Linked DNA regions of Homo sapiens. The protein of the gene in region 2 binds, or shares a complex with, the protein of the main gene of each other region. Each region holds a gene or a part of one and is shown on either strand. Other genes may lie near its edges. A codon is read from its position in the direction of its gene.

Evidence for each region.
Region 1: the proteins of ATOX1 (region 2) and ATP7A are in contact, whole or in part, in an NMR structure (PDB 2K1R), measured with the Homo sapiens proteins. Residues at the interface, in NP_004036.1 of Homo sapiens: Thr11 (codon at 3,147), Cys12 (codon at 3,144), Gly13 (codon at 3,141), Gly14 (codon at 3,138), Cys15 (codon at 3,135), Ala18 (codon at 3,126), Arg21 (codon at 3,117), Val22 (codon at 3,114), Lys25 (codon at 3,105), Lys57, Thr58, Gly59, Lys60; in NP_000043.4 of Homo sapiens: Cys19, Asn20, Ser21, Cys22, Trp24, Thr25, Gln29, Asp67, Asp68, Met69, Gly70, Phe71, Asp72.

What each region holds. Positions count from the first base shown.
Region 1 is NC_000023.11:78,046,492-78,050,987, reverse strand, and holds the end of ATP7A (copper-transporting ATPase 1), read right to left. Parts: coding exon 4,418-4,496; 3' UTR 593-4,417; downstream 1-592. UniProt on the Homo sapiens protein: ATP-driven copper (Cu(+)) ion pump that plays an important role in intracellular copper ion homeostasis.
Region 2 is NC_000005.10:151,748,609-151,755,901, forward strand, and holds part of ATOX1 (copper transport protein ATOX1), read right to left. Parts: intron 5,515-7,293; exon of another isoform or gene 5,065-5,514; intron 4,702-5,064; exon of another isoform or gene 4,472-4,701; intron 3,172-4,471; coding exon 3,096-3,171; intron 1-3,095. UniProt on the Homo sapiens protein: Binds and deliver cytosolic copper to the copper ATPase proteins. May be important in cellular antioxidant defense.

The DNA.
Region 1 (4,496 bases), on a different chromosome or scaffold from region 2:
TGGGAGGTAGCCATCAGTACACATCCTTCTCTGAGGTCAGGATACCAATAAGAAAGGGAGGCTGGCAAGCTGAGTGGATGCCTTGGGGATTTTACTCTTATTTTGCCATTTCCCATCCTATCTCCTCACCCTGAGTAACCCCAAGGATTTGGGGGGAAATGAAAATTAGTTTTTCCTCACAAGTTTACAATGGTTTCCTTAACTCAAAAAGGAGTGTTCGGGTATGGGAATGTATCTTGGGTGGGAACTTCAAACACTCTGTATAGGGCTCCCCAATGGCAAGAAAATCTCTTTTCTCTGTTTAGCTCATTTGGAGTAGACATTCTATCAAGAATGTATTAGAGACTACAAAGGAAAGCAGAACAATAATATTCCTTCCTTTATTTCTCATCCTCACTGAATGATATGGCAGGTGTAGTGGAGTCCGAAGGAAAATAGATTTCTTCCCTCCCATCCTAACCGAAAGTGTAGTGATGCCTATAATCCACCTCCATCATAGATGAAAAGTTGAAAAAAATAAAAATATAACAAAGGTAGTTCAGAACTGCTGATAGAGGGGGTTGGATGATTTAACAAAAGAGACAGACAAAAATATTTTACAACACTATAATTATAAAGTTGAAGGCACATCCTTGGCAGAAATATGATCAATTACATGCTTATGAAAAACAAACTACTGAATATCTTAACTACAGTAGATGGATATTGCACAACATCGTCCACTGCTGTTTTCGGTACCAAACAATCAATGTTCAACAACGTTTAGCTAAACATTTCTTTAACTAAAAACGTAAGGTTGAGACGCCTGGTTTTGGCTACAAAAGGCATTTGTTATCAACACTGTGAAAGAAGCTCTTTTAACTGAAGAACAAGAACTCATGCTTTGTGCTCTATCTGGTTACTCATACCAGATGGAGGGACTGCAGAAAGTTAGTGTAAAAATAGGTAATAATTTGGCATGAATCTATATTTTTTCTATTTTGTAAAATAATACTTAAAAATGTAGAAAAGAAACAAAACAAACAAAAACCCAAAAGGAGTGATTCCAGGAATGTCTTTATTCTTTTTAAAATAACCAGTAACCAGATGCCTCACCCAGAGAAAAAAACAAAATGGAGTAAAATAAATATCAAGAAAAATCATTTTAAAGCATGATCCATAAGTAATAGAAAAAATTCTCTTAACATACATTTTTGATTTTAAGCTGTATACAGAAAAGATATGCGCACTTAAAGTTTTGGAAACATCTTGTCTACAGTGCTATTTTAAGCATTCTATACATATGAATAAAGAATACTTTTTAAAAAATTAAAGCACAATATAAAATTACTTGTTCACAAGGCATCAAATTTGACATTCTAAAATGTTGATACTAAACTAGGAAAAATAACGTTTCTATTTTCACAAATGACACACCATACATCTTGAGACTACAATACTACTACTCTAGCTGTGTTTTAATCTTTGAAATTCAAAAGGCATCTTTGGATATTTAAGTTTAAGGTGCCACATAGGTGAGTCTGAACCGGCACTGGATATTAAAGTATCCTTGTTATCTTCAGACTAAGGGCATGGTTGCTGAGTGAATACAGAAGAGTGATAAATGAAATATAAATAGAGAACTTCAAATATTCAAATATCAAATTCAAATATAAATCCATTTCCCTTCAGTATGGTAATATGTATGTATGTGTATGTACATATATATGTGTGTATATATATATGTATGTGAATACACAGAAATACACATTTATAAAATTTCTCATTACTAACTCCTGACTTAAAGCTAGCTACTAACTGAAAGCAGTATTTTTGATTCCCTCCATAATCACCTCTTTCTCCTGTAAATACAGCTTCTCTTTGAAGCTAATGAAAGTTCAAGATTGCAAAAAAGACTTGTGGTAGAGGATTCAAATGTGGCTACATATTACTTAAAGCAGGACTTTTTCTAATTAGCATGTTTTCTGTTCTTGTTGTAAGAGCTGAAATTATCTCTTTGATTATTTCAATACTACAAGCTGCTATTCCCACTGTCCCACAATATGAATACAAGACCAAGAGGATGACTCCAAGGTACACATAATAATGGAAGAATAACTGGCTGTGTTCAACTGCTTGAGGTGGGTGGGAGGGAGAAGGAGGCATGCTTCTTTTTTCAACATTTACCCTATCAGCTCTGTCTTCTAGAAGAAACAAGTTGTATTATAAGATGGGCCACTGGAATTAAAATAATAAATAATAAAACTCAAACTGAAAGCATGGAGGATGGCATAGGCATTGGTCTAAAAAAAGGGCCTAGATATGCAAACCCATTGATATTTCAGTGAAATGGGTTTGCCTTTCTAGATTAATAGCACCTTCATCAAAAGCTTCAGTTCTCTCTTTAAGACAGCTGAGACAGAAATTAGATCTTTTCTAAATCTGAAAGACAGCATGGAATAAGGTTGTAAACTTTGCATGTGTATATATGAAAGGATAAAAGAGAAAAGGGGTAGGAAAGGAAGAACTCCATCCCCTACCCCCACCTGATTTTAAGACTCTGCTCTAGAAAAATGATTTTTTTGTATTTATTACTGACCTCAAGGGGAGAAAAGAACTAACATTTACCGAGTACAAATCCTATGTGCCAGATGTTGGGTTAGCAGCAGCTTTGCTTCTGGTAATGGGAACAAAATGTTAGGAATTTACTTATGAGTCCTCTTCATTTACATATTCTGCATATGAAATCCATCTTGCAACTAACAAAGAAATTTAAATAGTCTTACAAGTACCAGATCTCTGACCAGTGTATTAGCTACCAGGCACTCACAAGGGAATTTCTAAATCCATTTGGCAATGGGAACAAGCTCCTAAATTTGCCAACCACACTAACTAGGCAAGTTCAAATGTTTTAAACTAGAGAAGAGTATATATTTAGCTAAAAAGCGTCATAACCTAGGGAAATTTTAGTTTCTGTATTATGATTTTACTGTATTTTTTGGTAAATGCAGCTTTGTGTAATAGCATTATTTTAAAGTCTTTTTGAGAGGTTATCTGAAACACTAAAAGATAAATAAAATCTATTAAATTATATATACTAGCAAAGTGATTATACTCAATTCAAAAAATACAAATTTAGGCTGGGCATGGAGGCTCACACCTGTAATCCCAGCACTTTGGGAGGCCAAGGCGGGTGGATCACCTGAGGTTAGGAGTTTAAGACCAGGCTAGCCAACATGGCGAAACCCCGTCTCTACTGAAAAATATGAAAATTAGCCGGGTGTGGTGGCAGGCACCTGTAATCCTAGCTACTCAGGAGGCTGAGGCAGGGAGAATTCCTTGAATCCGGTAGGCAGAGGTTGCAGTGAGCCAAGATGGTGCCACTGCACTCCAGCCTGGGCTGCAAAACAAGACTCTGTCTCAACAACAACAACAACAACAACAACAACAACAAACAAATTTAGTGAATCCAGGTAATTTTATATGACCTGTATATGTATAATAGTTTTAATCTTTGAAAATTTTTTGAGCAGAAAAGGCTCATAATGTTAAGTTTCCAGACTGAGATCAGCAGACTACATGAAGAATAACTTAGAGTCCAACTTGGCAGGAGTGAACTGAAACTGAGCACAGAGCTAGGAAACTTGAAGGAATAATTTGATATACTTTTTACAACAGTGGAAAGATGGGAGGCAGGGAACCCTACAGACCTTTAAGGTCTTTTGAGCTACAAAATTTAAAAAGGAGCAAAATATTAGAACAGTTGTCAGTTATTTTTAATCAATGAAAAACCACCTAAACTTGGTTAGCTCGAAAGAAAATAACAAAAGAAGACATATTGGAGCATCTAAAAAAGCACCTGCAAGGACAAGGATGCAGGGAGAATGGGGGAAAGAAAGCCTGCAATAAATAAGGCACATCTATTTTTAAACAGTTTCAACTGTTTCCCTTCTAAAACTAGATGTTTTATACACAGTGCTTTGAAAGTCATTGCTCCCCAGTGGGGCAGGGATACAGGCTTGAGAGTATCTTCAATATTTTGAGTTCAAAAGCATGAATATCTTCATGCTCTCAAATCTTCAAATTTTTCATTTTCTTCTTCTTGGGCCTTTTTTTTTTTGGTCAAATAAAAAAAAAATCACTTTAGCAGCAGTTCAGCAATCTCTAATTGTAGGGCTTGTTGTAAACCTCACTGCTCTACCTTATCTGTTGTTAGTGAAAACAAAAATATACTGGAAATTCAGTTTAAATAAAGCTAGGTTCAGAGCTGATGCCTTGAAAAAGATATTTTTGCCAACAGATAAACGCAACTCAAATAGAATCCCTAATATAAGAGCATGAGAAAAATCCTTCTACAATATTTTGAAAAGTGAAGGTAACATCATGAATGCTGTGTCAGTGCATGACAAGTTAAACTGGCAGCACTCTCCATGGCCTTTTATAATGCAGTGTCATCATCTTCCCTGAAGTCTCCCACCAGGAGTGAGTGCTTGTCAGGTTCACTGGTAACAACACTG
Region 2 (7,293 bases):
CCCAGCACTTTGGGAGGCTGAGGCGAGTGGATCACTTGAGGTCAGAAGTTCAAGACCAGCCTGGCTAACGTGGTGAAACCCCATCTCTACTAAAAATACAAAAATTAGCTCAGTGTGTGGCATGTGCCTGTAATCCCAGCTTCTCGGGAGGCTGGGGCAGGAGAATCACTTGAACCTGGGAGGCAGAGGTTGCAGTGAGCCAAGATCATGCCACTGCACTCCAGCCTGGGAGACAGAGTGAGACTCCCTCTCAAAACAAACAAACAAACAAACAAAACATATGGTTTCCCAGCCTGCATAACAAAGCAAGACCCTGTCTCTACAAAAAACAAAAACAAAAACAAAAAAATAGCCGGGTGTGGTCCTGTAGTCCCAGCTACTCAGGAGGCTGAGGTGGGAGGATGGCTTGAGCCTGGGAAGTTGAGGCTGCAGTGAGCCAAGACCGCGCCACTGCACTCCAGCCTGGATGAAGTTCCTGGGATGGGTAGATGTCTTTGAGCTGTCAAACGAAATTAGGCCCATCCCCACTTCATCCAGAGCCTGCTGCTTTGTATTTGAGGAGCTCCTGTACAGTTTCATTTTTAAAGCATCAACAGGCTGGGCACGGTGGCTCACGCCTGTAATCCCAGCACTTTGGGGGACCAAGGTGGGCAGGTCACCTAAGGTCAGGAGTTTGAGACCAGCCTGGCCAAGATAGAGAAACCCCGTCTCTACTAAAAATACAAAATTAGCCGGGCATGGTGGCCTGAGCCTGTAATCCCAGATACTCAGGAGGCTGAGGCAGGAGAATCGCTTGAACCTGGGAGGTGGAGGTTGCGGTGGGCTGAGATCACGCCATTGCACTCTAGCCTGGGCAACAAGAGCGAAATTCTGCCTCAGAAAAAAAAAAAAAATTAGCCAGGCGTGGTGGCGGGCACCTATAATCCCAGCTACTCGGGAGGCTGAGGCAGGAGAATCGCTTGAACCCGGGGCAGAGTGGAGCAGGTTGCAGTGAGCAGAGATCATGCCACTTCACTCCACTCTAGCCTGGGTGAAAGAGCAAACTCCATCTCCAAAAAAAAAAAAAAAGAAAAAGAAAAAAAAAAGCATCAACAGCAAAAGCTGATACAGACATACAAGATATACATTCCCATACCACAGCTGGGGAAACCCAGGCCCGAGAAAGAAGGGCCCACAGTCACATGACAAGTCAGCAGCTAGGTTCTTTCCACTGTTTCAGTTTCTTTCAGATTAAGATCCCAGTTTACAGGGCTAGAGGCCAGCCACTGACTTGCTGCGGGACTACGGGCAAGTCACTTAACCTCCTGGACACTGGCATCGACATCCCCATTCCAAAGATGGAAAGTACAGCTCAGAGGACTGCTAATGAGATCACGTCCATGTGGAAGCCATTTGAAAACTTAATGTCATTATTATTTAGGGTTTTAAAAAAGAAAATTTTAGAAGATTGTGTGATAGTTCATGTGGAAGAAAAAGAAAAGAAAAAATCTTAGAAGGCTGACTGAGCACTGGCATTGCCAAAACTCTGATCACAACTCAGTTATTACCTCACTGAGTCCCAGGACCAGATCCCAGTCCTCTCTGGGCCTCAGTTTCCCCAGCTGTAAAATGACAAGGCTGGATGAGACTGATTGTTCAAAAGAGGTGCTTTAAGAATATCTGCATGTGGCCAGGTGCGGTGGCTCATGCCTGTAACCCTAGCACTTTGGGAGACCAAAGCAGGCGGATTACTTGAGGTCAAGAGTTCAAGACCAGCCTGGCCAACATGGTGAAATCCATATCTATGAAAAGTACAAAAATTCACCGGAAATCGCCTGAACCCAGGAGGCAGAGGCTGCAATGAGCTGAGATCATGCCACTGCACTCCAGCCTGGGCAACAAACAGAGTGAGACTTCATCTCAAAAAAAAAAAAAAAAAAATCTGCATGTGAGTGATTCAAAATTAATTTAAATTTTTTTTTTTGAAGTAAAGAAACAGAAAAAGACAAAATTTTAAAAATTTTTACCTTTTTTTAAATCTTTCCTTTTTTTCTTTCTTTTTTTTTTTTTTTTTTTGGAGACAGGGTCTTGCTCTGTTGCCCCCACTGCAGTGCAGTGGCACGATCTAGGCTCACTGTGGCCTTAACCTCCCAGGCTCAAGCGATCTTCCCACCTCAGCCCCCTAAATTAGCTGTGAGTACAGGCATGTAACACCATGCCTGGCTAATTTTTTTGGTATTTTTTGTAGAGATGGCATTTTACCATGTTGCCCAGGCTGGTCTCGGGAACTCCTGAGCTCAGGCAATCTGCCCGCCTCAGCCTTCCGAAATGCTGGGATCACAGGTGTGAGCCACCGTGCCCAGCCCCATTTAAAAAACCTTAATAGAGGCTGCGTAGGGTGGCTCGCGCCTGTAATCCCAGCACTTTGGGAGGCCGAGGCGGGCAGATCACCTGAGGTCAGGGGTTCGAGACCAGCCTGACCAACATGGAGAAACCCCGTCTGTACTGAAAATACAAAATGAGCCAGGCGTGGTGGTGCATGCCTGTAATCCCAGCTACTTGGAAGGCTGAGGCAAGAGAATTGCTTGAACCTGGGAGGCGGAGGTTGCAACAAGCCGAGATTGCACCATTGCACTCCAGGCTGAGCAAGAAGAGCGAAACTCTGTCTCAAAAAAAAAAAAAAAAAAAAAAATTCAATAGAAAATGACACTCAGATGTGTCATGCAGTACACACTGGAGATGACCAACATATGAACTAGTACTGCCATGGCTCCAGAGCTACTCCTGGCAGTACTAGTTAATTTGGCTAAATCCCAGCTCTGCCATTTACTGACCATGTGATCCCAGATAAGTTATTTAATGTTTCTGAACTTCAGCTGTCTCCTGTTTAACATGGAGCTAGTAAAAAAAAAACTATCTGAAATGGCCGTGGTGAGGATTAAATGATGTGATTCACATAAGCCACTAAGAAAATAACAAGAGTAGTTGGCACGTGCTAAGTACTCAATATATTTTAGTTTTACTGTTATGATCAGCTTAACCCTAAGTCTCTCCTGCAACATCTGCATGCATCTGAACATGGCATAAGTGCACCCAACTCAGGGCCACTCACTCACCTCCAAGCTTATTGAGGACCCGAGAGACAGCTTCAGCACAGCCTCCACAGGTCATGTCCACAGAGAACTCGTGCTTCTGAAACAAACACAGGGGGACCATGACCCGAGCCCTGTAGAGTGACCCCCACACAGTGCCAGCAGACAGGCCCACTCAGGGTCAAGACAGAAGACAGAGAGACTGGGCAGGACCTGGTTGGCATCAGACTCATCAGAAGCCTGTTTCTGAGCCCGTCTCTTCAACTATAGAGTAGCTAAGAGTTTCTACCTCACAAGTTGTATTCAATGGAATCATCCCTATAAATCCTTTAGCAGTGTCTGGCACATAGTAAATAGAATCACCTGGAGATCTAGTTTAAAATGCTTTTTCCCAGTCCTACCTTCAAAACACTGATTCTTGAGCTATGAGCTTTGTCTCAGGGCCACCAGTAACTCTGACAGGGATGGGCCCCCATACTCTGAGCAATGCTGATCTGGTGGGCCCACTTATGAACCACAAAATTATTTTCTGCACTAGAGTCACCTACAGCTTGCAAAAACTACAGGTTCTGGTCAGCAGGTCTGGGCTGGGGAATCTGTTATGTCTACTCATTACCCCAGGTGATTCTGCTTTCATCCAAGGGCCGCATTCTCAGAGGCAGCATCTGGGTCCAGGGAAAGAAAGGATTGCCTGGGTTCCCCAGTGGGTTGGAGGCCAGGCAGGAAGGGATCCCCGGCTCCTAGTCTTCATGTAAGCTCTACATTCTACAGTCTCTAGGATATCTAACAGATCAAGGGTCTGAAGGTAAGCTCCCAGAAGACAGAGGTTTTGTTCAGTTCACTACTGGATTCCTAATACTTGGAACAGTGCCTGGACAGAGTAGGTGCTTAAAACTTATTTTTGAGTCAATGGATAATTGACATGGCTGGTTTGAACTTCTGGATCTTTTGCTTTGCTTTCACACAAGGATTACTTATACCAATACTTTATTTTAAAATCTCTGGAAATGAGACCATCTGAAATCAGATAAATATGGCTTCAGATACCAGCTCTGGCACTACTAGTTGCATGATCATCAATATGTTACTTCTCTGTGCCTTAGTTTCCACATCTGAAAATTGAGGGTAAGAGTCCCTCTCTAGATTTGTGAATGGGATGAACACAGGATTTTAAGTACGGTTAGCCAGCATCCAAGATGGCCTCAATGATCTCTGCCTCTGGTATTTATGCCCTTGAGTAATCCCATTCCACATGTCTCGGGTTGGTCTGTGTGTCTTATAGAATATGGCTTGAAGTGAGGTTATGTGGCTTCTGAAGCTATCACAATGTCATAAAGGACACTGTGACTTCTGTCTTGCTCCATTTCTGGGGTCACTTGCACTAGAGGAAGTCAGCTACTAAATTACAAAGAAATTCCAGCAACCACAAGGAGAGGTCCACAAAGTGAGAGATTGAACCCTCGAGCTAACAAGCATGTGAGTGAGACATGTTGGAAGTGGATTCTCCAGCTCCAGTCAAGCCTTCAGATGAATGCAGCTCCAGCCAACATCTCACTGCAGCTTTATGAGAGCCTCTGAGCTGGAGCCACTAGGCCAAGCTGTTCCCAAATTCCTGACTCTCAGAAACTGTGTGAGTTACTATAAATATATTTGTTGTTTTATACTACAAAGTTTTGGGATAATTACTAAGGAGCAATAGATAACTAACACATTAAGGAAATTAGAGCCTAGTACTAGGTTCCGTTGGGTAAAAGGTTAGCTATTGGATTATTAATTTCTTCCATTTGTCTCTCCTGTTTCCCTTCAAAAATCAATGGCTACATTTTTCATGGAGCACTTCAAAATATTTGAAGTCTATTACCTCAGTTGGAATCCTGGGTGTAGTGATATATCTTGCTAGAAAACCACAGGCAAAATCTCTGCTCCAGAAGGGCTCCAGTTCCCTAATCTATACCAAAAGGGTATTAGCTAACTCAATTTTTTTCAACTTTAGTGTGCATAGGAAGAATCTGGGGACCTTGTGGAAAGTGCAGCTCCCAGACACCTGCCTCAACTGACTCTGTGGATGTGGAGCGGGCCCTGCCACTCCCCATTTTTAACCTACTGGGGAGAGAACGGGAGGCAAAACTACAAACCTGAAAATAAAGTGGCTAAGTGGCTTCTCAAACTCTTTCCAAGTCTCTAAACACCGCTGAGTCTGGATTGTCACTGTGCTCTACAGAGGAAACGAAGACCAAGAATTAAGCAGCTCGATTTTCCAGTGCAGACTGTTTGACCTTTGTGACTAGTAAACCACTCCTTTTATTAAGGCCAAATCTGCAAAATCTGTCTTAAAGAAAATGGTCAGTCTTTCCTTTCTTCTAAACATCTCTGATTTTTTCATCTTGTTTCCTGACTATTCACAGACAGCAACAATAACAGATTCTGGAAAGAAGGATTTGTAGTAAGTATTACAAAATCTTGTCTTTAAAATGTGGTCCTCAGCCCAACAATATGAGCATCACCTGAGAGCCTGTCAGAAATGCAGAATCTCAGGTCCCTTCCCAGAAGTCCGGAATCAGAATCCTCATTTTAACAAGACACCCAAGTCATTCCTCCCCACATTACAGTCTGAGATGATGCTCTCCTCTATTAAAAAGTTTTTTTAGGCTGGGCAATGTGGCTCATGCCTATAATCTCAACACTTTGGGAGGCTGAGGCAGGTAGATCACCTGAGGTCACAAGTTTGAGACCAGTCTGGCCAACATGGCAAAACCTGTTTCTCTACTAAAAATAGAAAAAAAATTAGCCAGGCATGGTGGCAGGTGCCTGTAATCCCAGCTACTTAGGAGGCTGAGGCAGGAAAATCACTTAAACCCAGGAGTTTGAGACTAGCCTGGGCAATACAGTGAGATCATGGCTCCATTTAATTTAAAAGAAAAAAATTGTTTTGGAAAAAAAAATGATGATGCTCTGGAACATGGATTGGCACACTACAAACTACCTGTTTTACAAAGAGTTTTGTTAAAACATAGCCCAAATCGGGCCAGGTGTGGTGGCTCATGCCTGTAATCCCAGCATTTTTGGGAGGCTGAGGCGGGAGGATCACGAGGTCAAGAGATCGAGACCATTCTGGCCAACATGGTGAAACCCCATCTCTACTAAAAATACAAAAATTAGCTGGTAGTGGTGGCATGCGCCTGTAGTCCCAGCTACTCAAGAGGCTGAGGCAGGAGAATCGCTTGACCCAGGAGGCGGAGGTTGCAGTGAGCCAAGACCATGCCATTGCACTCCAGCCTGGCAAGAGAGCGAGACACCGTCCAAAAAAAAAAAAAAAAAAAAAGAAACACAAAAACAAAAAACTACAGCCAAACTCATTTGTTTACTTTTGCACTAGAATGGCAGAGTTGAGTAGTTGTACCAGAGACCCTATGGTTTGTGAAGACTAAAATGTTTACTATCGGTGCCGTGTAAAAAAAAAAGTTTGCTGAGTCTTGCTCTAGGATAACCAGCAGAAAATCAATTCATCTATGGTTTGTACTTATATACTGAGCCAAAGCTTTGAAGGGTTTGCAAGATCAACATAAGAGCTAAATCTACTGATTGTCTATTACATGTCAAATTATCTTTGTACAGTATCTAAGTTAGTCCTCACTGAGCCTGGAAAGAGAGCTATTTATCTTATTTCACTCAGGAGGAAAGTGAAGTTCCCAAGAGTTCACTAGGTAGCTTGCAGTCATGTGGCAAATAACTACTGAGTATGGAATATGAACCTAGGCTTTCTTCGCTCCAGGGAAATCTTGCTGGTTCTGGAAAAGCAAAGTACACCGCCAGCCCTCATAACCCTGACTCTCAGCAGAAGCTCTGAAACTAGAAACACATTTTTAGGGAGCACAGTTTTTTGCTGCCCAAGGACCTAAAGTCAACAGATACCTGAAACTTTCTGTCGCTGACTACAGGGAGTAGGTCCCATCCCCCACAGTATAAAGGTCAGAAGCCAGAAACCAGCTTCTGGGTATAAACATTACAGTTCAGTGCTCTCCTCCTCCACCTCTGAGGGGCAAAAATAAATTTGAGGGTGATGGAAAATCTATTTCATGGACAGAGTAATCACTTCTTTATAGGAGAATCTCAAGATTGGCTCTACCACCAGATGCATAACTGGGTAGTTCTGGTTCCTCATGGCCTCTGGGGTCTTTTATAAAGACTTATAAAATGGGTAGATTTTAAAAGCCAGTAGGTT